7 linked regions of the Homo sapiens genome follow. The protein of the gene in region 2 purifies or fractionates together with the protein of the main gene of each other region. This does not show direct contact. Each region holds a gene or a part of one and is shown on either strand. Other genes may lie near its edges.

The links.
Region 1: the proteins of FKBP5 (region 2) and AKT1 purify together in Homo sapiens (affinity purification with western blotting; 3 studies listed by BioGRID, with this or other methods). This does not show direct contact.
Region 3: the proteins of FKBP5 (region 2) and CDC37 purify together in Homo sapiens (affinity purification with mass spectrometry; 5 studies listed by BioGRID and IntAct, with this or other methods). This does not show direct contact.
Region 4: the proteins of FKBP5 (region 2) and ARAF purify together in Homo sapiens (affinity purification with mass spectrometry; 4 studies listed by BioGRID and IntAct, with this or other methods). This does not show direct contact.
Region 5: the proteins of FKBP5 (region 2) and MAP3K7 purify together in Homo sapiens (affinity purification with mass spectrometry; 4 studies listed by BioGRID and IntAct, with this or other methods). This does not show direct contact.
Region 6: the proteins of FKBP5 (region 2) and NUDCD3 purify together in Homo sapiens (affinity purification with mass spectrometry; 3 studies listed by BioGRID and IntAct, with this or other methods). This does not show direct contact.
Region 7: the proteins of FKBP5 (region 2) and AGO3 purify together in Homo sapiens (affinity purification with mass spectrometry; 4 studies listed by BioGRID and IntAct, with this or other methods). This does not show direct contact.

Annotation. Positions count from the first base shown.
Region 1 is NC_000014.9:104,775,202-104,779,512, reverse strand, and holds part of AKT1 (RAC-alpha serine/threonine-protein kinase), read left to right. Parts: intron 1-2,742; coding exon 2,743-2,854; intron 2,855-3,713; coding exon 3,714-3,861; intron 3,862-4,305; coding exon 4,306-4,311. UniProt on the Homo sapiens protein: AKT1 is one of 3 closely related serine/threonine-protein kinases (AKT1, AKT2 and AKT3) called the AKT kinase, and which regulate many processes including metabolism, proliferation, cell survival, growth and angiogenesis.
Region 2 is NC_000006.12:35,678,883-35,683,193, forward strand, and holds part of FKBP5 (peptidyl-prolyl cis-trans isomerase FKBP5), read right to left. Parts: intron 1-4,311. UniProt on the Homo sapiens protein: Immunophilin protein with PPIase and co-chaperone activities. Component of unligated steroid receptors heterocomplexes through interaction with heat-shock protein 90 (HSP90).
Region 3 is NC_000019.10:10,392,732-10,397,042, forward strand, and holds part of CDC37 (hsp90 co-chaperone Cdc37), read right to left. Parts: intron 3,473-4,311; coding exon 3,197-3,472; intron 2,813-3,196; coding exon 2,704-2,812; intron 2,613-2,703; coding exon 2,497-2,612; intron 2,413-2,496; coding exon 2,290-2,412; intron 711-2,289; coding exon 528-710; intron 427-527; coding exon 355-426; intron 1-354. UniProt on the Homo sapiens protein: Co-chaperone that binds to numerous kinases and promotes their interaction with the Hsp90 complex, resulting in stabilization and promotion of their activity. Inhibits HSP90AA1 ATPase activity.
Region 4 is NC_000023.11:47,564,002-47,568,312, reverse strand, and holds part of ARAF (serine/threonine-protein kinase A-Raf), read right to left. Parts: intron 3,517-4,311; coding exon 3,414-3,516; intron 3,329-3,413; coding exon 3,174-3,328; intron 3,071-3,173; coding exon of another isoform or gene 3,062-3,070; coding exon 2,963-3,061; coding exon of another isoform or gene 2,959-2,962; exon of another isoform or gene 2,338-2,958; intron 1,675-2,337; coding exon 1,533-1,674; intron 1,430-1,532; coding exon 1,402-1,429; intron 1,328-1,401; coding exon 1,182-1,327; intron 1,084-1,181; coding exon 881-1,083; intron 1-880. UniProt on the Homo sapiens protein: Involved in the transduction of mitogenic signals from the cell membrane to the nucleus. May also regulate the TOR signaling cascade. Phosphorylates PFKFB2.
Region 5 is NC_000006.12:90,541,591-90,545,901, reverse strand, and holds part of MAP3K7 (mitogen-activated protein kinase kinase kinase 7), read left to right. Parts: intron 1-1,269; coding exon 1,270-1,350; intron 1,351-4,311. UniProt on the Homo sapiens protein: Serine/threonine kinase which acts as an essential component of the MAP kinase signal transduction pathway. Plays an important role in the cascades of cellular responses evoked by changes in the environment.
Region 6 is NC_000007.14:44,389,659-44,393,969, reverse strand, and holds part of NUDCD3 (nudC domain-containing protein 3), read left to right. Parts: intron 1-1,484; coding exon 1,485-1,673; intron 1,674-4,311.
Region 7 is NC_000001.11:36,038,456-36,042,766, reverse strand, and holds part of AGO3 (protein argonaute-3), read right to left. Parts: intron 2,978-4,311; coding exon 2,783-2,977; intron 2,461-2,782; coding exon 2,326-2,460; intron 1-2,325.

The sequences.
Region 1 (4,311 bases), on a different chromosome or scaffold from region 2:
CAGCTGCCCCGGGGGCCCCTCCTCCAAGGGGGTTAGATAGAGCCCATCAGGGCCTCTCCTTGGGAAACCCCTTGGGTGAGGGGGCAAGAGTCCATTGGGGTCTCCAGCTCTGAAGCCTCCATCACTCGAGGAAGAGCTCGTGCCTCTCCCTGCACAGGCTCTCAGCCTCCAGACCCCATGGCAGAGCCTTTGCTTCCCCTCTGTGAGGCTGCCTCCTTGCCCATGGAGGGGCAGGTGCAGAAAGGCCAGCGGGGGACCTTGGCCGGAGCATCCCACAGAGATGAGAGACATGTGACGCTCCCTGCTCCGCCCTGCTGTGGCTTTATTCCTTACCTGTAGCGGGGGCAGGTGCGACCCTACCCATGTCAGACGGGAACCCTGGCATGGAGACCCAGGCGCCCTGCTAGGTGGGAGGCTGGGGACACGTGGGCCTCCCAGCATGGTCCCCATTTTCTGTGTCCCTGTCCTGGAGCCCAGCTCTGCCTGTGGCAGCCAGAGACACGGGTTGGGCATGCAGGTGTGACTGAGTGGCTAATTAGGGCCCAGTTGTGGGCCATCTGTATGTGGCAGGGCTGGGTAACTGCAGGCCTCTGGGATCTGTCTCAGGCAGGTCTGTGGTGCAGAGCGAGGTGCCCACCAGGGGCTGGCCTTAGGTTCCATCCCCATGTGCTGCATCGGCCCCTCCCCTCCAAGTAGCTCTGCCCTCCTTTCTTTGAGGCCTGCGGTCCTCCGACTCCCTTGAACTTGCTGGACCCCCAGGTTCTGGTCCAGGGTCTGGGAGGAGGTTAAATGCAGGGAATCCGTCCCCAGGCTGGGCAGGGAAGGACTCCCACCCTTGGTGCCTGCACGTATAAGGGGAGGTGGGGTCAGTCTGGCACCCTGGCTGCTAGGTGGTCTGTGGCCAGCAAACCGTGCCCTGAAGCTTCTAGTTGGGAGGGGCAGAGGCCTTGCCCTGCAAAGCCCCAGGCTGAGGGGCTGGGGTTGGGGTGGGGTTTACCAGGACCTGGTTCCTGTAAGCCGAGGTCTCCTTCCCTGGCTCTTCCAGCCTCAAGCCAGCAGTAGCAGGGCAGCCTGATAGAGTAGGGCACCCCAGGGGTGAGGGGAGACCAGGAAGGCAGACACCCCTGTCTCCTGACAGCCTCGTAACCATGCAGGAGACTCACTGTGACTTGTCCCACACCCTCCCCAGTGTCTCCTCGGTTGGGGCTGGGGGCTTCAGGGATCAGGGAGAGGCTGGGTGCCAGCAGCGTGCCTGGTGGCACCTGGGACAGGGCCTTGCTGGGGGTGGGTGCTGTGGGTGTGCTCGCCAGGCCGAGGCATTGGGAAGGAACGAGGTGGGGAGCTCTCTGGAGAGGCACACGGGTGGGTACCAGCTGGAGGTGTTGCCTGAGCAGCTGGCAAGGCTGGGGCCTTCAGATTAGGCCATAGGTGAGTGGCCTGGAGCGCCTGGCCAAGGAGCAGAGCTGGGCAGGGGCCAGGGGCTGTGCTGGGCCTCTGTCCGGGGCTTTTCTCCGGGGAACGGTTCCGGGGCAGTGGGCTCGAGACTCTGGCCCTGGGGATTGCATACTGGGGCAGATCGGACCATCCAGGAGCGAGTGGGAGGTGGGTGTGCCGGGGCTTCACACCGGTTTCCACTTCTCTGGCCTGTGTTGACACAGGCCACCCTCCCCACCAGGCTGGTCCCGAGCCCCCTCCTGGCCCCCAGGCCTGGAAGACAGCTTCCTTGCTGCCTGGCCAGGCCCCCTTGTGGTTGCCAGGGCCTCGATGCTGGAATGTCAGAGGCCCCCCACTGGCCCCTCAGCCTCCTCCTGCTTTGCACAGGCTGGGCCAGAGCCTGCCACGGAGCCCCAGCGGCTACACACTCCACTCACTCACACCTCTCAGGGCCCCGCACGTTCCCACAGCCCTCAGGGTGTACGTGCTGTAGGTGTGGCTGTGCCCCAGGTATGTGTTCCCCAGGTGTGCTTGTGCCCCAGGTGTGGCTGTGCCCCAGGTGTGCGTGTGCCCCAGGTGTTCGTGTGCCCCAGATGTGGCTAGGTGTCTAGATGTGTTCTAGATGTCTGTGTATTCCAGTGTGGCTGTGTCCCAGGTGTGCGTGTGCCCCAGGTGTGTGCCTCAGGTGTGCGTGTGCCCCAGGTGTGGCTTTGCCTCCAGTGTGTGTGTGCCCCAGATGTATGTGTGCCCCAGGTGTGGCTGTGCCCCAGGTGTGCCTGTGCCCCAGGTGTGGCTGTGCCCCAGGTGTGCCTGTGCCCCAGGTGTGGGTGTGCCCCAGGTGTGGGTGTGCTCCAGGTGGCTGTATTTCCCAGGTACTCAGGGTGAGGTTGGGAAAAAAGCAGGACATTTCTACACTAGGTGGGACAAGCAGGTTTCTGGGGTGCCCCCCTCATGCCAGCCCCTCTGTGGGATCTCCATACCCCTCATCCTCTGAGGCCTGGCGCACGGCGGGGCTCAGAGACTGAAGGAAGGACTGTAGGAGTGGACGATGGTGGGGGTTTGACCTGACGCCGGGCCAGATGCCCTGTGTGGCTGCCTCAGCCTGGAGTAGAGTGTCTGAGCTGGAACAGGGGTCCTAGCCCCACTCTGTGAGGCGAGAAACTGAGGCTTGGAGAGAGGAAGAGATGGGGCTTCCCAGGACCTGGTGGGTGGTATGCAAGGGGAGCTGGCTGGTGCAGCGGGGGCTGTGGTGAGGGCCCTGGGAGGGGCAGGGGGATGCACGCAGACAGAGGCTCTGCCTGCCCGCAGAGTGCCAGCTGATGAAGACGGAGCGGCCCCGGCCCAACACCTTCATCATCCGCTGCCTGCAGTGGACCACTGTCATCGAACGCACCTTCCATGTGGAGACTCCTGAGGAGCGGTACGTGGGCTGTGGCGGCCAGGCCAGGCACTTGGGCAGCCCCAGCGCTTAGGAGGGACACGGGGATGGCGGGGTGCTGGCACCTCTGCCTGTAGCCATCCTCACTCCCCAGTGCTCCCAGGCCCTCCTCAGAGCCCAGTTTGGAAACTGGCCCAGTCCTGCCTGTGGGGTTTGGGTGGGGAAACTGAGGCTGGAGATAAAAACTGGCTAGGGACCGGGTGCAGTGGCTCACGTCTATAATCTCGGCACTTTGGGAGGCCGAGGTGCGCAGATCACTTGAGACCAGGAGTTTGAGACTAGCCTGCCAACATGGTGAAACCCCCGTCTCTACTAAAAATATAAAACTTAGCTGGGTGTGGTGGTGCACACCTGTAATCCCGGCTACTTGGGAGGCTGAGGCACAAGAATCGCTTGAACCCGAGAGGCAGAGGCTGCAGGAGCCGAGATTTTACCACTGCACTCCAGCCAGGGCGATAGAGCAAGACTCCGTCTCAAAAAAAGAAAAACCCGGTGGAGAGGGCCAGTCCTCCTTGGGGGGCGGAGTCCTGCTTGGGAGGCGGAGTCCTGCTTGGGGGGGGCGGAGTCCTGCTGGGGGGCGGAGTCCTGCTGGGGGTTGGAGTCCGGTTGTGGGGACAGAGTCCTGCTGGGGGGCTAAGCCTGGGTGTCCCCCACGTCCAAGAGGGCTTCGTGACCCTGAGTGTATGTGGCCAGACCAGGTCAAGTGGTGGCCTCCTCAGGGCTGTCTCTGGGAACCCCGACAGCTGTGGAACCACGCTTGTGAGGCTGGCGGGTGGGTGAAAGACGTGGGGTGGAGCTCCTGATCTGGTACAGGCCTGCAGCCTCACCTGACCTCCTGCAGGGAGGAGTGGACAACCGCCATCCAGACTGTGGCTGACGGCCTCAAGAAGCAGGAGGAGGAGGAGATGGACTTCCGGTCGGGCTCACCCAGTGACAACTCAGGGGCTGAAGAGATGGAGGTGTCCCTGGCCAAGCCCAAGCACCGCGTGGTGAGGCCTGTCCCCACTTCTGCCTGTGCCTGGGGCTGCCTTGGACTGTGGAGGGCTGGGTGGGTCATGGGGTCCCAGCTCGGCCCAGGAGACACTCAGCACTCCACGGCATCTCCACCTAGGCCGGTTTTCCATGTAGGGCGCAGCTGCTTCCCAGGTGGGTCCTCTTCCCCATGTCAGAGGAAAACTGGGGTTGCTGAGCCCTGCCAGGCTTGGGCAATGTTACCCCACCCTTCCCTGAACCCCATGCTCTGAGCTGGGGCCGCAGCCATGTGTTCCCTGTAAGCCTGGACTCCCCGCTGAGCCCAGTAGGCCACCAGGTGTGAAGTGGACGCCTCTCCTGGCTCTGCCTCCGACTCTGGGGCCCCTCATGCCACCCCACGCATGCCGACCAGCTGGGCACTGTTGGCAGCGCCGCTTGCTGACCCTGGTGCCTGCCCATAGACCATG
Region 2 (4,311 bases):
ACCAGCTTGAGCAACATAGTGAGACTGTGGCTCTACAAAAAAACTTAAAAATTAGCTGGTCATGGTGATGCATACCTGTAATCCCAGCTACTGTGGAGGCTGAGGTGGGAGGACTGTTTGTACTTAGGAGGTCAAGGCTGCAGCATGCTGTGATTTCACCACTGCATTTCAACCTGAGCAACAAGTAGGACCCTGTCTCAAAAAAATATATGAAATACAAATAACCAAAATGTCAGTAATTAATGAATCTGGGGAATGGGTACATGGAGGTTCATTAAAGAATCTGGAGAGGAGGTATATGGAACTTCATTAGACAATTCTCTACGATTCTGTGTATGTATGCAACTTTCATAATAAAAAGTCTAAAAAGGTCTACTTACAGGTATACTTTTTAAATCCTATCTTCAGTTAAGGCTGACCATTCTAAACAAAATTCTGGCAGATACTTTTCAAAGAATGTTTTCTTCATTCTCGACTGATCAATTAAACACCATAGTGAAATGGACCATAAAAGGGGAAAAGGCCTATTCTGTCATTTCAGAGAAATATGAACATGTTTATTACATGGAAGAAGTTAGTCCTTTTATCCATGTTGATTGATATCAGACATCTGTCATTCTTCAAAGAATTATGTTTTTGTTGAAAAATATATAAGTTAAATGAGTAAAGAAAACATGGCATACACACACAACGGAATACTACTCAGCCATAAAAAAGGAATGAAATAATGTCTTTTACAACAACTTTGATAAAGCTGGATACATTATTCTAAGTGAACTAACTCAGGAATGGAAAACCAAATACTGCATGTTCTCACCTATAAGTGGGAGATAAACTATGAGTACACAAAGGCATACAGAGTGATATAATGGATTCTAGAGACTCAGAAGAGGGCAGGGGAAAGGAATAAAAAACTACATATTGGGTAAAATGTGTATTACTCAGGTAACAGATGCACTAAAATCTCAGAATTCACCATGATATAATTCATCCATGTAACCAAAAACCACTTGTACTCCAAAGCTATTGAAATAAAAATATATTAAATTTAAAAACTTATAAATAAAAATATATAGGTCATATAACTTTATTATTTTCATGAGTAAAGGCAAAATAAATGTTTATGTTGAATATCAATGATTAATTTGTTGAAGCATCTGGTTAGCCCTCCAGTTACTTCAAACATCTTCTACTCGACTATATGACCAAATAAAACAACTTTCTGATGTAGATGGAAAAAAAAAAAAGATTTAAAAAAATGAACCAGGCCAGGCACAGTGGCTTATACCTGCAGTCCTAACACTTTGGGAGGCCAAGGTGGGAGGATCACTTGAGGCCAGGAGTTCAAGACCAGCCTGAGCAACACAGCAAGACTCTGTCTCTACAATTTTTCTTTAATTAGCCAGACATGGTGGTGCACGCCTATAGTCCCAGCCACTCAGGAAACTGAGGCAGGAGAATCATTTGAGCCCAGGAGTTCCAGGCTGCAGTGAGCTATGATCGCACTACTGCACTCCAGACTGGGCAACAGAATTAGACCCTGTTTCAAAAGAAAAAACAAAAAGAACCAATATCCATTAATTATGCCTAATACTAAATTGTAATGAACACATACTAAAAATTACATAAAATAAGTAGTAGAATTGGAAAGTTGAATTTTTTTAGCCATTATTGTTTAAGCTATGATTTAAATTGATTTAATCTAAATCAAATCACACTATTGAGGCTGTGGAAACATTAAATCTAGTAGACAGTGACAGATTTACCACTTACCAATGATCAAGAATAGTTTAGTTTACAAACACCAATGTCTTTCCTGCCTATGAAAAATAGCACCACCCAAAAACAACAACCAGATTTGTATGCCTCCTCTTCTTTGGCTAAGTTCTAGGATAGTAAAAACTGTTCATGTCTTTGCAACAGCTAGCACATTGTAGGTATACAACTCTTTTAACAGAAACAGTCACAACTTCCAATTCCCAGAAAGCTATTGCTAGGTTTCAGTCACATTCCCTAGGTGACATGTGTAGGATAACAAAATAAAGCAGGTTTGCCTTGTAGGCAGTTCTACCTTGAATCGTTTTGAGGATCCTGTTTCTTCTAACAGAAACATGTCATGAGTCTTTAGTGAAAAGCAGTATAAATACATATACATGAAGACAAAAGACAGCCAACGATTCTTTTTCTCATCATTATTAAACCACTGGTTAATTCCTAACTGAGGTATTTCATGTTTTTTAGATAACAAGATCATCCTCATTTTCAACACTTTTTTTAGCTTTCTTTCCTTTATTAAAGTAAAATTTACATACTATAAAATCTTAAGTTTGAATCAATATGTTTGAGTAAATGTATATAACAATTGGCAAAACTGGATAAAGGTATACGGAAGCTCTTTGTACTAGTCTTGCAACTTTTCTGTAAGTTAAAAATTACATGAAAACGAAGTTACCCAAAAAGTATATAACTGAATTACCATCACCCAAGTCAAGCTACAGAATATTTCCATCATGCCAGAAAGTTTCCTTGTGCTCCTTTCCAGTCAACCACAACCCCTACCCAGAGGCAACCACTGTCCTGATTTCTATCACCATACCTTAGTTTTGCCTGTTCTTGTATTTTTCATAAATGGCATCATAAACACTTATACATACTCATCTGTGCCTGGCTTCTCTTGCTATGAACAGTATTTCTGAGATTCATCTATGTTGCTATGTGAATCAGTAGTTTATTCCTACTGTGAAAAAAGCTGCTATGACCCAGTCTTTTTGTGGGCATATATACTTATTCCTCTTGGTACAATAAGATTTCACAGAAAAAAAGTTTCGCATATAAATATGCCTGGGAAATAAGGCAGTATAGATAGATACTGCTATACACACATAAAACATATAGCAACCATATATACCATTATATATAATGTAAAAAAGATATTTGATATTTATACATATGTGTAATATATGTGTAATACACACACATACATAAGCTTGAATAATTCTGATCACGCCACTGCACTCCAGTCTGGGCGATAGAGTGAGACTGTCTCAAAAAAAAGAATTTATAAAGTTCATAGTGAAAGTAAATCTAAGATGGGAAAGATGAGCATCTCAATTTTTCTAAGTTTATGTCTTAACCTAACAATAACTCAAAAGAGAAACAAGTATCTCTCCATGTAAATTACCCTGTTAGGTTTCAATGAAACACCTTTTCTCTTGTAACAAACATCTCCTCCAAGCTAGAATTTCAAAACAGTGTTACCATCCACTAGGTAATAATTTTTATGCTAGCAACAAAACCCAAAATATGTGTTCAGATTACAAGACTGTTTTTATTGTCTTGCTTTTTTAAAAAAGTTAAACATGGAAAAACTTAATTAATTAATATCTAACATGGGTAAAGAACATTCCATGCTCATTCAGAATATATTCTGATGCAGACTCAATCTCTAAGATGTTTTCTCCATTCCAAAAAGTAACCTATCGCAGCATTATGTCCATGACTGGGACATCTTGACTTTCAAATTCACTGTGCAATTTTCAGCTAACAATGGAGGAGGTTCTTTAGTTTCCAGAGATAGGAACACTGAGAACAAGTACAAATCTAACTTTTGAAAAGATCAATCTGAAATTTGCAACCCTGCTTTTGATAATGAAATGACCATTTTCTGGGGACTCCTCATTTATAACATCTTTAAATTGCCAAGTTTAAAACAGAATGCTACAAATGATTCTAGAAATTTACCACTGCCCACTTAGGATTTGCAACTACAAAAGGGAAAAAACAACCCTCTTCCAGTCTGATTTTTCTTCATCTCTTATTCTTCTTTCCAAAAAACGAACAATTTCAAAAGGATACAATTCAAATGTACTACATTTTTAAGCCAGGCATGGTGGCTTGGGCCTGGGATCCCAGCACTTTGGGAGGCTGAGACAAGAGGATTGCTTGAGCCCAGGAGTTTGTGTCGAGGCTGCAGTTAGCCACCACACTTCAGCCTCGGTGACAGAGCAAGAAACAATCTCTTTTAAAAAAAAAAAAAAAGAAAAAAAAGTATATATATATATATCCCATTTCTTTTTTAAAAAAAGGTTAAAAACATACGTCAATCTCTTTAAAATGTATGTATGTGTCTGTGTGTATATATATGTCTCTTCCAATCTTTTTCTTAAAAAAAGTATAGAAATATATATCCCAAGCTCTTTCTTTAAAAAAAAAAGTGTGTGTGTATATATATACGTATATGTGTGTGTGTGTGTGTGTGTGTGTGTGTGTGTGTGTGTGTGTGTGTGTGTGTGTGTATTTGAGACTGGGTCT
Region 3 (4,311 bases), on a different chromosome or scaffold from region 2:
AACAGCCAGCGTTTACCAGCCCCTGCCATGTGCTCACCTCCCTTTCCCACGCATTTTGTGAGCTGATATTGAGAGAAAATGTGGTTTGGATAAGGAAACTGAGGCTGGACTCAGTCACAGTAACAGTGACAGTCACGAAGGACATGCGCTCAAAGCTCAGCATTTATCTGCTGGATACTGGGATACAGTAGGTGCTCAATATATGTGGGTGTGTGCCAAGGTGACACGACCCCCCTTACTCCTTGGAGAAGCCTTGGAGGGGCACTTTCACCAGCCGGCTTCAGAGACTTGGGACACAGGGCTGGGGGAGACACACGGCCCGCCGGGAAGGCATGGGGCGCGGGGGTTACTCACGGTGGGGTCCATCTTGCTGATGGCGTCCTGCAGCATCTGCACGTCCTTCACATCGAAGCACTTCTGGAGTTCCTGGGGGTACAGAGGGGCTGGGGTCAGGGGCTGGGTCCCTGTGGCCCTGGGGGGTCCCGCTCAGGGTCTTCCTGCTGCCCGCCTGGGCCGGGGAGCCCCACCTCAGGGAGGGACTCGTAGACCTCGACGGGGTCCAGGCCGCCGGGGCCGAGCCGCTTCTTGCGCTCCTCCTCCTCGTACTCCTTCATGGCCTTCTCGATGCGCAGCTTGGCACGGCCCCGCACACGCTCCTTGAAGGCTTCCAGCTCGTCGTTGAAGCCCTCCATGTACTGGCGATCGGCTGTCTATGGGGGTTGGGCAGTGCTCACTGGACCTGGCCCAACGCTCAGGAGGGACTGGGGGGCCCAGGACCCTCCAGCCACAGCTCCTCAGAGGCGCCCCACGGTTCCCCAAGTCTATTCCTGACCTACATGAAGGGCTCCCCAAGGCCTGGGCTCCCCCGCCGGGGACCTCATCTGGCATTTGCCAAAGACCACCTGCTTGGGAGCCCTGCTCTACTGCAGATCTGAGACACTCATGTCCTCAGTGTCCCTGCATGGGCACCTCTAACTCAACATGGCCACCTCCCAGCCTGCCTTGTCCTTGGTCTCCCTAATCTCGGTAAGGATAGCCCTGTTCCTCCAGGTACGCAGGTTAAAAATCCTAGAGGCTAGGCCGGGCGCGGTGGCTCACGCCTGTAATCCCAGCACTTTGGGAGGCCGAGGCGGGCGGATCACGAGGTCAGGAGTTCGAAAACATCCTGGCTAACACGGTGAAACCCCGTCTCTACTAAAATACAAAAAATTAACCGGGCATGGTGGCACATGCCTGTAGTCCCAGCTACTCAGGAGGTTGAGGCTGGAGGATCGCTTGAACCCAGGAGGCGGAGGTTGCAGTGAGCCGAGATCGTGCTACTGCACTCCAGCCTGGGCAACAGAGTGAGACTCCATCTCAAAAAAAACAAAACAACAACAACAAAAAAACCCTGAGGCTGGCAGGCACCTGTAATCCCAGCTACTTGGGAGGCTGAAGCACTAGAATTGCTTGAACCCGGGAGGCAGGGGTTGCAGTGAGCTGAGATCACGCCACTGCATTCCAGCCTTGGTGACAGAGCAAGACTCTGTCTCAAAAATGAACTAAAACCCAAAACCCTAGAGGCACCCTCACCTTTGTCCTTTACCCACATATTCACCTGGGTACCTTCAGCACATCCTACTGCTCCCACATTTTTTTGTAATGCAGTTTTGCTCTGTCACCCAGGCTGCAGTGCAGTGGCAAACCACAGCTCAAACTCCTGAGCTCAAGTGATCCTCCTGCCTCAGCCTCCCAAATAGTTGGGACTATAGTACTCAGTCACCAAGCCTGGCCTGACCTCCACTTTTATTTAATTAATTAATTTATTTATTTATTTATTTTTGAGATGGAATTTCGCTCTTGTTGCCTAGGCTGAAGTGCAATGGCACGATCTCGGCTCACAGCAACCTCTGCCTCCCAGGTTCAAGCGATTCTCCTGCCTCAGCCCCCCGAGTAGCTGGGATTACAGGCACACACCACCATGCCCGGCTAATTTTGTATTTTCAGTAGAGATGAGGTTTCTCCATGTTAGGCTGGTCTCAAACTTCCAACCTCAGGTGATCTGCCCACCTCAGCCTCCCAAAGTGCTGGGATTACAGGCGTGAGCCACTGCGCCCGGCCTCCACTTTTAAAGTCTGGCAGAATCTGCCCACTTCTCTCCTCCTCCCTGGCCCCACCCTCTCCTGATCTAGGATGCGGTGACTGGAGGGGCTTGAGTCCCAGTGGAGAGGAGTCGGCCTTACCTAGAGCATTGTGGGCTGGTTCCCTGGGGAGGGGGCCTCCAGCCACCTGGCAGCTCAGGGACCCTACCTTAATCTTAGTGAAGAACTGCCGGAAGCAGGCCCGGGGGTCCACCTTTAGGCTCTTGGCCAGCTCCAGGATAAATTGCATGACGATTGTCTGGTGGGCCACCTGCTCCATGAGTGCACATTTCTGCCAGGAAGAACAGGCACAGCGTCACCAAGTGGCGGCCTCATGGCAGCGCCTTTTCACAGTCCCGGGGAAAGCTCCACTCACCTCCTCCACCTCTAGGTCAATGCACCAAATGACCAGGTAATTGGCTGTCTCCTCGCACACCAGGTGGACGTTGTCTGACAGGTACTTTTGGCTGTCATCCCAGCGGCGAAGCATGCCTGTGGGAAGATGCTGGCAAGGTGCTGGAGGGCCCTGGAGGCAAAGGGCCTGCCTCGACCTTGCCCCCCATAACCCACAAGCCCCACTCACCAAAGTGCTTGATCTGTTTCTCGTATTTTTCCACGAAGGTCTTGTGTTTCTGCTCCCTCACCTCCTCTGAGTCCTCCTCCGTCTTCTCGGGCTTGGTATTTACCATGCTCTGTGGTAGGGTGAGAGGGGGAGTGGGCTGGGGCAAGGCTGCGGAGCGCCTCGAGCGCGGCCGGGCGGGCCGTGGTCGCAGCGCCCATCCCATCCACGGCGGAGGTGGTGACGAAGCCATGAGCATCAAGGTGGCGGGAGCGTGGGCATGGGCCTTGGGGCAGATCAGAGGAGGGGACCGGTGGGGTGTTTCATCCGCCCGGCCCCCCAAGCCTGTCCCCCCTCCCACGTGGCCCCCGTCCATCCCTCAGCTCCCCGCCCCCCACCACACTCTTCAACTACACCACCGGGGTCCTCCCCTGACCAGGCATTGGGTGCGCATGCGTCCTGGTTGCAGGCTCTCTGGCTGCGCATGCGCACTGCCCGCCCCGCCCGCCCCGCACACCTTGCTGAAGCCGTCTTTGCTGAGCGTGTCCACGTTCCAGGGCATGCTCTTCTCCTTCTTGCGCATCTCCTCCAGCTTCTGCTCCCAGCTCCGCTCCTCCTTGCGCAGCTGCTGTGCCTCGGCCTGCAGGCGCTCCAGCTCTGCCTTGCCGCCCTCGGCCACCTCCAGCTCCTTCAGTTTCCTCTGGCACTCGGCCACCTTGCGCTTGCACTCGCGGCAGCCCCTGTCCAGTTCCTCCTTCTCCTTCTGGAACTGCTCCATGCGTTCCACCCGGGCCTGCGGGCAGGGACGGCCTATCAACTCTGGGGAGTCGTCTGTCCCTTACCCCCGCCCCATACCCAATCCCTGCACCGGAGATGGCCCCAGGAAAAAGTACGCGTCCACCTCCCGTGCCCTGGTCTCCCAGCTTCCGCCCCTGCGCCCACAGGTGCCAGCGCACACCCAAGTGGGGTCAGGTCCCTCCGTCCTCTGCTCAGAACCCTGGCGGCTCCCATCTCACAGCAGAACCCAAGTTGTCACCACAGCCTACATGGGCCCTACACAATCTGCCTCGGCACCTCCCCTGGTAACTCTTCCTTCCAGCTACACCAGCCCCTCACTTTTCTCACCTTTTCTTGAGGCCATTTTTTTTGTTTAAGAAAACAAAACAAAACAAAACAAAAAACAGGGTCTCACTCTGTCGTCCAGGTCAGAGTGCAGTGGCCCAATGATGACATACTGCAGCCTCGACCTCCCTGGGCTCAGGCGATCCTCCCACCTCAGTCTCCCAAGTAGCTGGGACTACAGGTGTGCACCAGCACGCCCAGCTAATTTTTGTATTTTCAGTAAAGATGGGGTTTGCCATGTTGCCCAGGCTGGTCTTGAAGTCCTGGGTTCAAGCGATCCTTCCCTCTCGGCCTCCCAAAGTGCTGGGACTACAGGCGGGAGCTACTGCACTCTGCGGAGCCCACTTTTTTCTTGAACCTCAAGGCCTTCGCACTGGCTGTTCCAACTACTTGGAATGCTTTTCCTTCAGAGCCCCCCACAGCTGACTCCATGGCACCCGTGCCATCTGGGCTCCATGTTGCCTTAGCGAGGACCCCTTCCCCAACCACCTTCCTGATGATGGCAACTTC
Region 4 (4,311 bases), on a different chromosome or scaffold from region 2:
GGATAGATGCAGGATTAAAACATTGGTGATATATGATGATTAGAGCCTGTTCAGCAGCATGAGAAGCTTAGAGGTAAAGAGCTTGGAGTCTGGACTCATGTTCAAATCTAGGCCTCACCAGGTACTCAAGGTACAACCTTGGGAAAGACATTTAACCTCTCTGGGCCTCATGTTCCTCAACTGTAAAACTGATCATTGCATTAGCTACCTTATTCTCTGTAACATAATTGTGCCCATCTGACACAGAGGAAAAGCCAATGCCAACATCCCCAGGGTTGGTAGACGCTATCCAGTACTACCTGTAGTATATAGGTATACAGTACTATGCTACATAGTAACTATAGCAGCAAAAAGGAGACACCTGGCTTTCTTAGCGTGACTAGATGAATACTGTATTGATTACATATTACAGCAATTATAATAATTAAGCAATGATTAGATTATGGTGATGATGATAATATTGTTTAAATCAAGGTATTAGAATTAATGAATAACAAGAACCAACACTATAAACAGAACATTACCATTGTAGCCCAAGCAGAGGGGAAGGAAAGATGGAAGCCTTCCTGGCAATGCAGTAACAAGAATGGTGGCCCACACACAGACCCAGTTCGCAGCAGGCAAATGAGAAGACCCACATTTTGGAGGCAGAACCATTCATTAATAACCCAAACACAAACAACTGCATGATCACAGGTCCTCTAAACATACTCATTTCCCAGAGGGGAAAGGGACACCCTTCAGAGAGAAACAACTTCTGATGATGGTTTAACAACACAAACACAGGTGATGTCCAGGAAGCACTCCAAGCATGGCCTTTTCCCAGAGAGATGCCAAGGCCGGGCCTGCCACCCCCATCCACGCACACATGCCACCTCACCTGAGCACCTGCATCTCATTCTTGAAAGCCTGGGCCTGCTCAGCTGTGGGCTGGGACACCTTGAGCACCTTCACGGCCACATCGCCATGCCACCGCCCTCGAAACACGGTGCCAAACGAGCCCGTCCCGATCCTCTTCAGCAGCTGCACCTCACTGGGTGGTACCTCCCAGTAATAGCCTGAGTCCCGGTACCCCAGGTTCTTCTGTGGGCCAGATGGGTGGCATCTAAGAGGCCTGCCCACATCCCTCATCCCACGTCACTCAGCCTTGGTGGCCCCAAAAGGATCCCCCTCGAGCATACCACTTTCTTCTTGTCATCGGCCAAGGACTTCCGCTCGCGCTGCTCTGCTGGTGACTTGGAATGTGGGGACTTCCTCCCCGAGGACACGCTGGCTGGGCTGGGGCTCCCCCGGGGGGTTCCATCACTACCTCCTCTACTACCGGCAGCTGCAGTTGCAGAGAGGATGTGAGTGGAGGTAAGTGGGGCAGCGGGGGTCAGGGTGCAGGCACAGGGGACTCACCATCAGTGCTGAAACTCTGGCCAGTGAGCTAGAAGAAGAGGGACAGGAGTCAAAAAGAGGGCATGGAGGCCAACAGGGATGGCTCTACCCTCTGCCCTGTGGTCCCCGGCATTGTCCCCCACAGCACCAACCTGGATGAGGTTGGAGTCCATGGGGGCCGTGGTGCTGACCATATGGACGTTGGGAGTGGACGTGGAGCGGATGCGCTGTAGGGGGGCATTGGCTGGGGCAGGGAAGGGGAAGTGCTCCGGGTCACAGTGCTGGGTGCGGGGGCTGCCAGGGGAAAGGCTGTGAAATCACTGCCAGGAATCAGAGAACCGAGAAAGCCCCCCACCCCACCCCCAGCCATAAACATGCATTTGGCTCACACAGAGCGAATGTCCACTGGCAGTACTATTATTCATTGCTTCAAGAAACATTTATTGAGTGCCTGCTGTGTGCCAGATACCATTCTAGGTGGTGGAGATAAAACTGTAAAACAAAATAACAGTTCTTGCCCTGGTGGGGCTGAAATAAAAAACAAATATATAATATGCCTGATGGTGATAGGTGCAATAAAGAAAAATAGTAAAGCAAAATAAGGAGACACAAAGTGTTCCTAGAAAGTGTCAGGAAAGGTTTCTCTGAGGAGGAGATGACAATGGAGTAAACGCCTAAAGGCAGGATAGCAGGCCACACAGATAGTGGGGAAAGGGTAATGTATCATATTTTATAATTATATATTATAATTACATGTACTTTTCAAATGTTATATAATATGTATCATCTATATAAAAATGGCAATGTTTTAAAATATACATATTACCATATTGTTATACATACATGTTATACATATGATATATGCTAAACATATTGTAAAGTTACAAAAATATGTTAATGTTCCCTTCACTATCCTGAAATGAAACTCAAAGGTAATTAATGCACATACACTCATAATTTAAAATAATACCCTAACTTTATTTTATGTATCATATAAACATGTATGATGTTCTACATTATATAAAATTATGTAATACAACATGATACAATAACATAAATATACCATAAAATATGCACATCATAAAATATATATTAGAGCAATAATATATTTTAATATAGCTATAGTTTTATATAATATTTAACATAAAAAAGCAATAAAAGGGAAGTAATTTATGATAAAATAATACGTATTTCAAAATGGAAAGGCTTGAGTATGATTATACTAGAATTAGCAAAGTAGTTAGATGCTTATAAATATATTTATAATTAATAACAAAAAAATTGATTATTTACACTGTACCAGATCCTGTTCTAGGCACTGAACATGTCTTAACTCATTTAAGCCTCACCAGAACCTTTATATGGTAGAAAGTATCATCATCCCCTCTTTACAGATGAGAAAACTGAGGCCCAGAGAAATGAGGTGACTTGCCCAAGGTCCCAGTTTCATGCCCTTACTCACACTTGTAGGTGCTCAATAAATGTTTGTCAAGTAAACAAATGAATAAAGTATGGCTCGTGGTCTACAAGAGCCCCAAGATCTTTTTCTCCCCCAGCAGCTCTTCAGCTAAGGCATCCCTACCTGGGACCCTGGGGGGTTAGCAACTCATTCAGGGGGCGGTTCGAGGGAGCCTCATGCTGTCTGGAGCCTCCGGACAAATCCTGGACACTGTGGTAGAACCTTGAGGGCATGAAGGGTATAAAGCAAGGGGACACGGGTCAGCTGTCTGTAAGGGCCTCGTGGCTGGGCCTCTGTGCTCCCCATCCCCCCACCCACCCCAGGCTGGGCTCACTGTTGGCGGTTGGTACTCATGTCAACACAGACTGTGGGGACCTTGGAGGAACAATGCTGGTGGAACTTGTAGCCACAGGTTTGGCAACGGAAGCCATGGAACAGAAACTTAAGGCAGAAGTCACAGAACGCCAGGCTGAAGAAGGTCTTCCGTACCTGATGCCACAGAGCAGGGAAGTTTGAGACCTGGTCAAGGACACCCCCAACCATGGTCCACCCCCACCGTCCACCCTGCACTCACAAAATTGTGCATGGTCAGCGGGACATCTTCAAGGACCTCGACAATGAGCTCCTCGCCATCCAGGGGAGCAATGGCTGTGTCCCAGGCAGTGACCGTCTTTCGTCTGCAGGGGGCATGGAAAGGAATGAGTGGGAGGTTGGGTAGGGGCCATGGGGAGGCAGGGAACCCCCACAAGTCCCTCCAAGCCTGCTACCCACAGGGTCATGTCTGGCATGTTTAATTCTCATCACAGCAACTCTAGAAATTAGTCACTATCCTTGCCCCAACTTTACAGATGGGGAAACAGGCTCAGAGGGATAAAGTGACTGGCCCTGGGCCACAAGGGTAATGAGAGGCATGACGGTGTGAAGAGTCCATGCTCTGAAACGGAAGGGGAGAAGCAAATGAAACTAAACAACTACATCTTAGAAGCGCTAAGCCAGCCCCTGAAAAGGGGGCTGAGGAGGCACTGAAACAACAAATAAAGTGCAGTGTGTGAACTGCATCATAAATTAAGGAAACCCACGAGAGAGGAATAAATAAAGTCAGCAAGACCCAACTCAGCAGACAGAGAATGGGGAAAATGAGGAAGAAGAGACCTGATGAAGTCATGACATCGTGAAAGGACAAAATAGATGAAATCTGGGCAGAAGTGATGGACCAGGGTGAGGACTTGGGGGCCAGGGGAGAATGAGTTGCTGACCTTACAGGCCAATAAACCAATGAAGTAACAAAACAAAAGATGGATGAACTCATAGATTACTTGAACTACAGTAGTCCTCCCTTATCTGTGGTTTCACTCTCCATGGTTTCAGTTACCTGTGGTCAACCGGGTGGGAAAGTATTAAATTGAAAATTGCAGAAATAAACAATTCATAAGTTTTAAATTACGTGCATTCTGAGTAGCGTGATGAAATCC
Region 5 (4,311 bases), about 55 Mb from region 2:
CTTTGAAGGAACATTCCCAGATGCCTCTCTTAACAACATCCACACATCATTGGTCAAAGTAACATGGTCGAATGGCTACACGTAGCTCCAAGGGAAGAGGAGATCTGCCCTCTTTTATCTGATGACTTTTCTGTCCTAAATAAAATCAGAGTACTATTGCTAAAACAGAAGGGAAGAGTGGAAACTGGCAGAAGATAGCTGTGTCTGCCACAGATGGGTCTTCAGAAACTATCAAGTTGAGTAGAAGTCACCAGCCACTGACAAGCCCATGAGTCTCCATGAGTCACAAGTATTTCTTTGGAGCAGGGTTGTCTCACTGTAGTGTCAGATGAACCCTACTCACCGGGACATACCCTCATGCTTTGAGGAACCCTTTTCACTTCAGGGATGTTGTTCAGGATAGATCTGCCACATACTAATTGCTGTCTCAAAACTGAAAATTGTTATAATAATGGTTTCATGTCTTCGCTAGTATCATATTTCTAGTCAAGCACTGGTTTTTTATTATTATTTACAGAAATGACTTTGCTAGAAGGATAACCACACACATTAAAATTTTGCCTAAGTGTAGAACAAATGCTATTGTACATCCCTTGAGTTTTACACAATTTAAATTTTTTCATGAATTGTCTTACTTGGAAAGAGTCATACTTTCCAGCCTTTTGACAGACTTTGTGTTTACTGTGAATGTACCCTAAACTTTGGAAAATATAATAAATATTTGGTACTAGAAATATGTATAAGTATGACTACAAAAGCATATACATTTCACACTTTGATTCAATAATTATTATTTAATCATTGGATTTTACTTTATAGCACACTTCAAGAAACACCTAACTTGAACATGTATTCCTGTGTTTGTGTAATTAAAACAAATACGACAACTTACTTTTTAACGCCTTTCTTCCTCTCCTCCTTCGTTCCCCCACCCCCATCACAGATCAGTGATTTCACTTAGGTAGACTGTTTCTATGAATATATTTGAAATTTTGCTTCCTCATTACCCTGCAGCTTTGTCTCTGTTCTTTTTATTTTTTTCTGCTAATTAAAACCAGTGTGTAAAACATCTTGTATTTGGTAGTTGTTTGCTCTTTAATCTCGCCTTTTCTGAGCATGGATGAAAAGTTAGGTAGTTCTGCATGCCATTCTGCATGAAATGTTATTAACATGAACTATTTGAAAATGAGTCTATTTTTGTAGTTAATCATTTTCCGTGTTACTGTTTGTGGTTGTTTGCATGTATACTGTATATATGTGTTTTTGCAGCCTATTCCAAGCCTAAACGGGGCCACCGTAAAACTGCTTCATTTGGCAACATTCTGGATGTCCCTGAGATCGTCATATCAGGTATCATAGACCACCTGAGTTGGTCTAATAGCTGTGGAACCGGAATAATGATCCCTGGTACTTGTAAAATGCTTCTTGCTCCAATTTTTACAAGACATGAAAATGGATACCTTGCATGCAGTAATTAGGGAGACAGATTGAAAAACTACATTTATTCTGAAGCAGTCTTGAAAAGATACCTCTGATCTACAATAAGTGAGGATAAAATAGAAGAGAAAGTAAACCTTTTTGGAGAAGGGAGAACACCAACCCAGAATTCTACCAACTTCCTCTCTACTTTTAAGTGAGCACATGAGCTAAACCCAGACCTTTTTTGCACCCAACAGAAAGAGGAAACAACTAATTAAAATTTGTTATTTTCCTTGGCTCCTTTCCTTCCTCAGTTACTGCTTTTTGGGTCCCCTCTAGACTTTCTGTCCTAACCTCTTTCTGTTGGTAGCAAGTGAATGTGAAGTTGAGAGAAGAGAGTTGCTAAATAGCATTTTGCCTTAACCTGGAAAACAAAAAGTAAAGCTAAATGAGATGTGCTGTTTTGCAGGGTATCTTGCCAAAGAATCATGTAAAATAGTTGGTCAATTCTGATTTTTGTGTATTATCAGGAGAATCTCATAAATTACATGTTTTTATACCTAACTTACACATGGTACTTTAGTGTCTAAAATTGGTAAACTGCTTTATTTCTTATGGTGATCATTTCATAGAGGAATATGTTACCATTTTTAATAGAAACTTAAATGGCATATTGACCTTCAGTATTGATTAATGTATTATCAAAATTATCATTTATTTATCCCTTTAGGCTTTTCTCTACCTCTTTACCCAAAATCTTGATAAGGAAATACATATTTTCCACACACGTTCATGAGTGCGAGTTGGATGAATTCTTCAGCATGCTGTCCTTTGCCTGTGATTGTGTTTTTAGCAGTGTTGATAATTCTAGTTGAATACCTAATGGTTATTTTCTCCTCTACTAAACTGAAAACTATGTAAGGATAGAATCCATATCTTTGTGCATTATTTTGTTGTTGTTGCTTATTATTGATTGTATCAGCAGTTGCTGGCTCAGTGCTTCACATATTAAGCATATTAACATAGTGTTTAATAAATACATTTATTAAATAAATGAACAGACCTATTGAGCATCTCCCCTGGTGAGAAACTAGCATACAAAAATATGAATTATACTATTCTTAGGTGCCATTTTGTCTGTATAAAACTATCTTATATTAATTTTCCCCTGGTTATCAAAGTGGTTTCTTATTTTACAACATCATTACTATTGCTATTCAAAGAGTAGAGTTAACCCATTTTTCACATGGTAATTTTTATTTATTGAATCTGGACTGCTTCAGAAATTAACAAAGAGATCATTTTACATGGAGATCAGTTTACCTCCATGCGGAAAGGTACTGTGTATAAGGGACGTACTTTAAAGAGGTGGAAGCATTTAAACTTACATACCGCTGAACTGTGCTTCCCTTAAATGTTTGAGGGAATCAGGAAAATTTAGACAGATGGCAGTGTAATCTTATGACTAAGCATTAAGAATAAATTTATATATGGCAGCGTAGCCCACGCTATACAAGATAATGGGGGAGGGAAAAATAAGGAAAGAATAATAGTTTATAACTGTCAGGTACTACTGGCATCTAGTGGGCAGAGACCAGGGATGCTGCTAAACATCCTGATGTGTACCAGGCAGTCTTCTCCAACAAAGAATGATCCAGCCCAAAATGGCAGCAGTGCTGAGGCTGAAAACCCCTGATTAGATGTTCTTTGTGCCCTACAAAGTAGCTTAAAGTACATCTTATTTTACCTTTATACAATCTTACAACTAGGTTATCGGATGAAATTATAGCTGTTTAACAGACGAAGAACTTAGATCTGATGATGTTTAGTGGTTTTTCCAGAATCATATAGCCAGGACCCCAACCCAGATCTTCTGACTCCAAGTCACATCCATTTTTTGTTCTTTTGTTTAAGTCAGAGAAGCTAGAGTAATTTCTTCTTGCTTTCTCTTAGTGTTCACATTAAGGAGAGCTCTTCAGCCAGGGAGATCCTCTTTTATGACATTGGGCCTTTATGGAATCAGGTAACCTTAATTCTCTTAATTGCCAGAGCAGCAGTGCTATTCATATGAAAATATTATTCAGTAATACCTTTTATTAAATATTCTTTTTAGGCTTTTCCCCCCTCAGATATCAAACATTAACTTACTCAGGTGCACTTTCTTTAATAGAAGAATACAAGCTGTAGAATTGACACTAGTGGACATAAAAGCCAATCATGAATGTGCTCATAGGTAATGTTTTTAAATTAAATATAAAAATACCGCCCATCCTTTGGGAATATCTCAAATTTCCTACATGACATTTTAATTGTAAAGAAGGGTGATACTTAATTTCCAAAATTTCTTAATACTTTCTAGAAATTGTTTTGTTCTAAGTGGATTTCCCACAAGCTTTATGGTATTAGCAAATACTTCTTGATATATTCAAACTGTTTAATTAGCATTAAAACCCAATTGCAAGGATTCTTTTTAAATATAGCTTTTTAAAGATCTTATTTACATGGATAAGAGTTTCGTTAATACTTCCCTTTGGCCAAGTGCAATGTACTGAGTCTAATGTACTTCTTGGAATGAACTACCTCTCTTAATAAGAGCAATCCTTCAAGCATCACAAAAAAGGTTTTGTATATATATCTTTAAAGTCACTAAAATGTCTAACCTAGTCATAGGTAAAGAAATGCAAAGACCCTAATCTTGTAATCTTGTTTTTTGCTCGCTCTTCAAAATGTGTATACTATGCCATCAGTCAAATGTGGAAGAAAAAGCAACTTAGCAAAACAGCACTATTTATCAATTTAGTAGTCTCTCAGATCATACAGAAATTAACCTTTAATACCTTAGGACTCCCTGTGGGTCAGACTGTACAATTTTTTATACCTCTTCTACCATAT
Region 6 (4,311 bases), on a different chromosome or scaffold from region 2:
GGTGGAAGGTGCAGTGTTAGGACACTGCTCTCTCAAGCCCGTGTATACTGGTGAGTCTCCAGTGCTCCCTCTTGGGGGGACGTGGTGTCCTGTGGACTCACTGTGACCTCTTGAGTGTCACAGTTACCCTGAGTGTGGCTTGGTAGGTTTTGCCCACCTGGTCAGTAAGTGTCCTGGTGGCTGCCACCTCCATGGATGAGAGCTGCTCTCACTTGCGGGCCCTTTGCTACCTTTTCTCCCTTTCTGTGAGCACCTAGTGGTTTAATCCCATCAGAGAGTCCCATCACACTTGGGCATGTGAATGTACCTCTTTCAATTGTAAATATTATGAAATCTAAACACAGATCAAGTATTTCTGTTGAAAAAGTGCAGTGCTCATCTAGGGCAAAGTAGACAAACCCACTCTGTTGCTTCTTGGCCACTCTGGTAAGAATTTTGAGCCCAGCCACTGACCACAGCAGATGCAGCCAGTTTTCTTGTTTTCTGTGTCTGTATGACCACTGATAACAGGGCATGGTGTGGCCAGGGCCCTCCTCTGTGTCCCTGGGACAGGCCAAGCAGCCAGGGTCACCTAGGTACATACAGCACCCCTCACGTTTGCTCTCATACTGCAGTTCCAGTTGTCTTTTAAGTTTTTATGGTAATGACATGAGTCTCACAGACCCCAACACTGAGGGCTGGATCTTAAATGCTGGGTGCTGCTTCCTTTGACCAAGGGATGTCTGTGCCATCCCCACAGAGGTGCCCAAGGAGGCCTCTTTTGGGGTTGTTTCTTGATGGTCGTTTCTCCTTCCCAAGCCATCAGAGAACTTTAGGGAATGGGGCTGGAGGACCCCCTCATGCAGCAAGCTTGGCCCCAGTGAGGAAGAAGTGGGGACAGGGCATGGTGCCCTGTCATGGGGTGAGGACTCCCCAGGAGATTCTGTCATGCATTAGGCTGAGCCCTAAGTCTCATAGGTCCCAGCTTACCCCTAAGATAGCAGAATGTTGGATGTTGCTCTTGGAAGCAAGAGAGATCACTGGAGAGGTAGTTGGTTGATAAGAGCTAAGCAGAGCCTTCCATGGCAAGCATGGGGGCAGGCTGGGTTGGCCCAGGACAGGTCCTGGTGTGGGGGGGTGTCATGGGTCTTGGAAAATAGCCTTTCTTCATGAGAGTGGGCAAGGTGTGCACATGGAACAGGCACTGTCCTGAGTATCCAGGACCTGCTGAAGAAGGATAAAGGCATCTTCCAGAATGTCAGTCCCCTCAGGTATGTGCCTCCTAGCTCTTCCCTGGGATATGTTAGCACAGGCAGCAAATGCATTCCCAGGCACAGAGGGTCCTGCCTTGGGTTCTGGCACCCCCTCTTGTCTGTCACCTCCCTTTGTGTAGTTGGTCCTGAGCTTATCCTGGACACCCATCCCTCAGTGGGCTCTGCTCTGTCCCCAGCCCTGGACACCTGTCTCAGGTCTCTGACTCAGGTCTCTGTCCTGCTTGTCCCCAGGTGAACCTGAGCAAGGTGGGCGAGTATTGGTGGAACGCCATCCTGGAGGGAGAAGAGCCCATCGACATTGACAAGATCAACAAGGAGCGCTCCATGGCCACCGTGGATGAGGAGGAACAGGCGGTGTTGGACAGGCTTACCTTTGACTACCACCAGAAGCTGCAGGGCAAGCCACAGAGCCATGAGCTGGTACGAGCATGGCAGTCCTGGAGAGTCCACCCTTTAGGCCCTTGTGCTGGTGACAAGGCCGATAGTGGCAGAGGGGTTGGTGATGACGGTGGGGAAGAAGGTTGTGTGGACCAGCTTCCTGCCATGTCCTAGCCTAGCAAGGAACCTGTCTTACCTGCTCTTGTCCCCAATCACTGCCTCACAGGTGCACTCTGGTCTTTCAGCTGTGTTCTCATACCTGGGCTGAGAGCCCAGTTAACAGGACCTCGAAGGGTGTCATGAGATCTGCCCTTCCTGCACCAGAGCCTGGTAACATCAAGTGTGTTGATGGCTTTTGTTTGTGCCTCATCTGCACATATCTTCCCATGAAGAGTCGCTTGGTGGGACCTTTGGTAGAGGAGGGGAGGGAGCCAGATTGCAGAGCCAGTTTCTGGATGTTGGAGGCCAGCATGTGAAGACTCTGTGATGTCAGCAGTGGGTTAGGGAGGAGGAAGAGAAAGGTTCCTGTCTGACCAGTGTAGTGCCCAGTGTAGAGTTTGCTCATGGCCAAAGAGAATGATTAATTAGATGTATACATTCTTTCTTCCTATTTTAATAACTCCAAGAGTAGCTATTTAGGGAAAAAAGGGTTGCTTTCCTCAGATTATTTTTAACTTCCCGTGTCCCATATACCCAGCACGTGGGTTTGGGCCGCAGTACAGCAGGGCACGCGGACGCAGTGCAGCCTTGAGTCAGTGGGGAGGGGTCATCTGCTGGGCACAGTCTCCTTATTTTTGTTCTGTAAACACGGACCGCCTCCTCCCCCTGAAGATCGCTGATCGATATTTTCTTCTCATTTTGTCTCTTGGAGGAACCTTACCTTGTGGTGTATCTGGATTGTCTTAGTCTTACCTTCCGGTACAGCACGTATTAATACATCGTAGGTGGTTCTGCAAGCCCTGTTGCTGTGTCTCGTCCGTTCTTGCCTATTTTCACAGACAGGTGCATCCTGCTCTTATGAGGTGAAGGAGCCTGCGGAGAGGAGTGTCAACATGTTCTCCTCACCTGGCCCTGCCACACCAGGGGCATGTCCTGAGCACTTAGTACACACAGTTAAGGTGGGGTTGACTGGCTGCACAGTACCCCTGAAAATACAGTTTGTTTGTTTTTTGTTTTTGTTTTTGTTTTTTTCCCCCCACAATAGAGAGATTGAATTTCTGAGGTTGTGACTCAGTAGCTTAGGCAGCAGGGATGGGGTTTGACCTCTGATTTGATTTCACACCTGTCTGTCCTCACAGCCCTGTCCACCCTGGCCCTTGTCTCTATGGAAGAGAATGTTCCTCTAGGTTTGGCCCCCTTTTCCACCCGGGGCATGGCAAGCTTAAAGGACATCTTTGCTTGGCCTACGTCCATGCAGAGTTTGAAGCCTCAGGTAGTATTGCAGCACCTGCTCAGCTGAGCTCAGCTCAGGTGCTTAGACAGCCAGACCTGCCTGGTTATGGCTCATTCCAGTTATGCTGCATTTGCCTGTGGCCACTAGATGAAAGGCCAGCCTTTGAACCTTTGCCCTGTGGGTAGGGCTTCTCATGGTAGTGTTTGGGGATGGTGTATGTGAGGGTCTGCCCACTCTGTGCCCATATTCAGCATTGGGTCCACAAAAGGACTGAGATGTATTCATGAGTTGACCTTCGGGAGAAAGAGTCTGTTTTGACTGGAGAACATGAACCCAGATGCCTTTTGTTCCAGAAAGATAAGAAGGCAGTCTTACCATGTACCCCTTAGAAGTGTCTTTTTGTGCCACAGGATGGAGGGACTAAGGTCAGGTGGTTTCTCACATCTTCCCCAGACACTGACACTGAGCCTTTGTTACAGAGAGATGATAAAAATTATTGTAGTTTGAATGGTATTTGTGCGTTTGTCAAAGCCTTGATGAAGTTTTTGTAGACTTTATTTTATTTTATTTTTTAAATTTTTTGAGACAGAGCCTCGCTCTGTCACCCAGGCTGGAATGCAGTGGTGTGATCTCAGCTCACTGATACCTCCGCCTCCCAGGTTCAAGCGGTTCTCCTGCCTCAGCCTCCTGAGTAGCTGGGACTACAGGCGCACACCACCACGCCCAGCTAATTTTGTATTTTTAGTAGAGACGGGATTTCACCATGTTGGCCAGGCTGGTCTCGAACTCCTGACCTCAGATGATCCACCTGCTTTAGCCTCCCAAAGTGCTGGTATTACAGACGTGAGCCACCACGCCTGGCCAGTTTTCTGTAGACTTTAGCTGTTGAGGCATGAGAGAAGCTAGGATGCTCTGGCTGTTTTTATCTGTGAGCCCTCATGTTTCCTGTGATTGTATCTCTTACAGAACTTTATATTCAAAAACAAAATAGCAGGAATACCTGCTCATCATTGGAGTTGCCAGTAGTGCCAAAGACACGCATGGAGGTGTCAGGGGCTCCACCAGCCTTTTCTTCTCTACATCCTTGCCCCTCCCCTTCCCTCCTTTCTTTCTGTTTCCCTTTTCTTTCCCTTACATCCTCCCCTCTCCTTGACCTTCCTCTCAGTCTCTTTCCCCCATCCTTTATGTTCTGTGCCAACACCTTGTAACATTGCATAGTCTCACCCCTCTATTGGGGCACGTCGGTGAGGAAGACAGACACAGATCTGCCTTTGTGGTGCTAGGATT
Region 7 (4,311 bases), on a different chromosome or scaffold from region 2:
TCTCTGAGTGGATATAATATAACTGAAATGACCCAAAATTCTTGATGATACAAGCTCCTTATAAAACACTTAAAAATGTTTATTATACCCACCTCCACCGCCTTATCCCAACACATTTAAAATCATTAACTGTAAGTCTAGGTTTACAAGGCTAGCAAATCAGAAACTATTTTACTGACTCAGATAATATTTTTGCCACGTGAGTGACTGTTATAAGGTAGTACCTTGAATTATAGTGGTGTGGACCAACCAGCTTCACTTTACCAAGCACAAAACAAAACAGTTCATAATCTACTAAATTATGCCTGGTCCTAAAAAAATACTTAACTCTAATAAATTAGCAACACGTAAATCTTCTAATTAATATATACAAAAAGTTGTAGGCTGGGTGTGATGGCTCACACCTATAATCCTAGCACTTTGGGAGGCCGAGGTGGGCGGATCATTTGAAACCAGGAGTTTGTGACCAGCCTGGCCAACATGGTGAAATCCTGCCTCTAATAAGACTACAAAAATTAGCCGGGTGTGGTGGCACATGCCTGTAATCCCAGCTACTCAGGAGGCTGAGGCCTGACAATCACTTGAACCCAGGAGGTGGGGGCTGCAGTGAGCCAAAGTCATGCCACTGCACTCCAGCCTGGGCAACAGAGCAAAACTGTCAAAAAAAACAAAAACAAAAAAATACAACTATCTCATAATCTTGTTGGTGAGGATTAAATTGATGAAATTTATAAGCAATACTTAGAACAATATCTATTATTATTTCTTCTTCTCTATTCTACCACTATCACCACCACTCTGCAGCTAGCCAAACTTTATTTATTAATTTTTTTTTGTTCTCATCACTCTACTAATGAGAGCTAGCCAATCTTTACTGAGTACTTAGTGTGGGCCAAGCCCTGTTCTAAGTGCATTACGTATTTTATTTAATTCTCCCGACAACCCAAATAAGGTAGATATTAATATTATCCAATCTTGCTAAGAAATAAACAGACACAGAGATGTTAAGTTGCTTGCCCAAAGGAATACAGTGAGTATGTATGGCAAAGAAAAACACCCCTCTCTTAGTCCTTTCTATCAAATCCCTTTCTCAAGGGGAAACAACACTTGGTATCATTAGATTTCTCTGCTCCAAGATTTACAGGATGGGGGCAGATGTGATCAGAGCACTGAAAATGACAGTAAGACTGCTGTCTTGCTGCACACAGATAAGAAAACATATTTCTGGCCGGGCGCAGTGGCTCACACCTGTAATCCCAGCACTTTGGCAGGCCGAGGCAGGCGGATCACAAAGTGAGGAGATCGAGACCGTCCTGGCTAACACGGTGAAACCCTGTCTCTACTAAAAATACAAAAAATTAGCCGGGCATGGTGGCAGGCGCCTGTAGTCCCAGCTACTCAGGAGGCTGAGGCAGAAGAATGGCGTGAACCTGGGAGGCGGAGCTTGCAGCGAGCTGAGATCGCGCCACCGCACTCCAACCTGGGCGACAGAGTGAGACTCCGTCTCAAAAAAAAAAAAAAAAAAAAAAAAGAAAACATATTTCCTTAGGTATTTATACCTCTCTTTCCTTCCTAATTATAAAAAATATACATTCACATTATAAAATGCATAAAATAATTCTGTGAACTTTAAAGGAAACATGGCTAAAAGTTAGTTTGTATAAATTTCCACTTTTTTTTTTTTTTTTTTTTTTGAGATGGAGTTTTGCTCTCTTGCCCAGGCTGGAGTACAGTGGCACCATCTCGGCTCACTGCAACCTCTGCCTCCTGGGTTCAAGTGATTCTCCTGCCTCAGTCTCCCGAGTAGCTGGGATTACAGATGTGCGCCACCACACCTGGCTATTTTTTGTATTTTTAGTAGAGACAGGGTTTCACCGTGTTGGCCAGGCTGGTCTTGAACTCCTGACCTCAAGTGATCTGCCTGCCTTGGCCTCCCAAGGTGCTGGAATTACAGGTGTGAGCCACTGTGCCTGGCCTGAATTTCCACTTTTTTAAAAAACTAATTTGTATGAGATATTTTAAAAAGAGAATGTACTGTTTTTTCTGAAGATTTTAGGAAAATATGAATAGAAGAATAATTTTAAAACCATGAGTTTCTTCACAACAAAAAAGTAGAATGAGATTTTGAATATTTGGAGTGTGACTAGAAATTCTAGAAAGTTAAAAATAATCTATTTTGATGCTTCTATACTCATAATGTAATTGTTGAAATTTGCTACTATATATTGGAAATCCTGCTGTTGGCAGAGGGCCCTTGTTGAATGCTCTATGAACTATGTTGGATAAGCTTGGTTTATAACAGTATTACAACAGAGGTGAGATTACCCTTTCTGTCCTATCAGCACAAAATAATCGAGTGTGATGTCTCTTCTGAACTACAATGTAGGTTATTCCAGGTTGATAGTCTTTCTCCAAACTGATGCAGGCTTCTCGAATTGCTAGTAGTTCATAATATAATACCTAGAGAATATGAAATGGAAAGATTCAATATAGTCAGCTATTTGTTTTTATATACTTCAAAGTAGGATAATGATTTAATCTCAGGATTCCTTAATTTCACCACTCTATAGCTAATAGATTCCATTTTAACGATTATTAGAACATGGTCTTAGCAAGCAAGGCATACACATTCGTAGTGAACATTTTCAAAAAGACAATCTAACAAAACACCAAGTTTTGACTTGGGGAACTCTAACAAGGTTTTTAACTCTAGAACTAGACACCATATTATAAACACAATATCTGATTTCACCATAGTCTGATGAGATTCTAGGTAACCAACCTGCCTAAACTGCCCCTCTGAAACACCATCCCGATAAAAGATGATACGAGTAGGCTTGAACCGAGTTGACTTATAAAATTGAATAAGAAGTTCCCGGACCATGGAGGCCAAGTCCTGGATGATCTCCTGTCGGGGTCTCTGAACTCTTACTGTGGCACAGTATCTGCTTGGGTGTGCATCCATACTACCTACAACCTAGGTTAGAAAAAGTAAAATAAATAAATAAATAAATAAAAATAAATGATAATCAAAATTACATGAATTTCATTTACATTTTTATTTTACTGTAACCTGTTCATCACTGTTTACTTTGAAAGTAATCAAAAATAGTAATTCTGAGTTGGGTATGACGGCATGTGCCTATAGTCCCAGCTACTCAGGAAGCTGAGGCAGGAGGATCACTTGTGCCCAGGAATTTAAGGCCAGCCTGGGCAAAATAGCAAGACCCCATCTCTCTCTCTTTCTCTCTTTTTTTTTTTTTTTTTTTTTTTTGAGACGCAGTCTTGCTCTGTCATCAGCCTGGAGTGCAGTGGCACAATCTCGGCTCACTGCAACCTGCACCTCCTGGGTTCAAGCGATTCTCCTGCCTCAGCCTCCAGAGTAGCTGGGACTACAGGTGTGCACCACCACCCCCAGCTAATTTTTGTATTTTTAGTAGAGATGGGGTTTCACCATGTTGGCCAGGATGGTCTTGATATCTTGACCTCGTGATCCGTCTGCGTTGGCCTCCCAAAGTGCTGGGATTACAGGCATGAGCCACCGCACCCAGCCTACCCCATCTTTTTAAAAAATTAAAAAGAATAGTACTTCCCGTTGAAGAACAGAATAAAACACCTAGTATAGGGTAAAAAACTATTTTCCTATAACTAGGCTGAACTATACATTTAACAATTAGATTCTTTGTGTTGTTGGTAGACTTAAAGATTAGTAAGGAAAGAAAAAGACAAAAAGATGTGTATAAGAGAATAAGAGAAAAGAAATAAGAAAAAACAAGGACCAATTCAAACCACTGATTTTTCTTCCTATCTCTTCCACTTTAGCAACCTATCTCAGAAGCCATACTTAAGACTTTAGCTTCATCTTAGAACTGTTACGCTTCATAAATTTTAAAATCAGAATTTTCCCTCTTGGCCTGAATCTATACAGTCTTATTGAGCTGCATTTGTGTTCTGTATCTGGTCCTCAGAGAAGTTAATCTTGGTTTTGAAACTAGCTATATTAATTTCTCTTTCTGTGTCTAATATTGTTATGTCTTTGGAGAAGAGACCTCAAAGCATGAACTTATAACATTATTCTGATCAGAGCCTAGAGCTGGTCACTGCCTCCAGACCCTTTCTTCCAGTTAACCTATACCAAAGTCATGCTTCAAAAATGGAACTTTGACCATTTCTTTCCCTTGAAAGGTATCTCGCTACTTAAGAATAAATCCAGGCCGGGCACGGTAGCTCACGCCTGTAATCCCAGAACTTTGGGAGGCCGAGGTGGGCGAATCACAAGGTCAGGAGATCAAGACCATCCTGGCTAACACA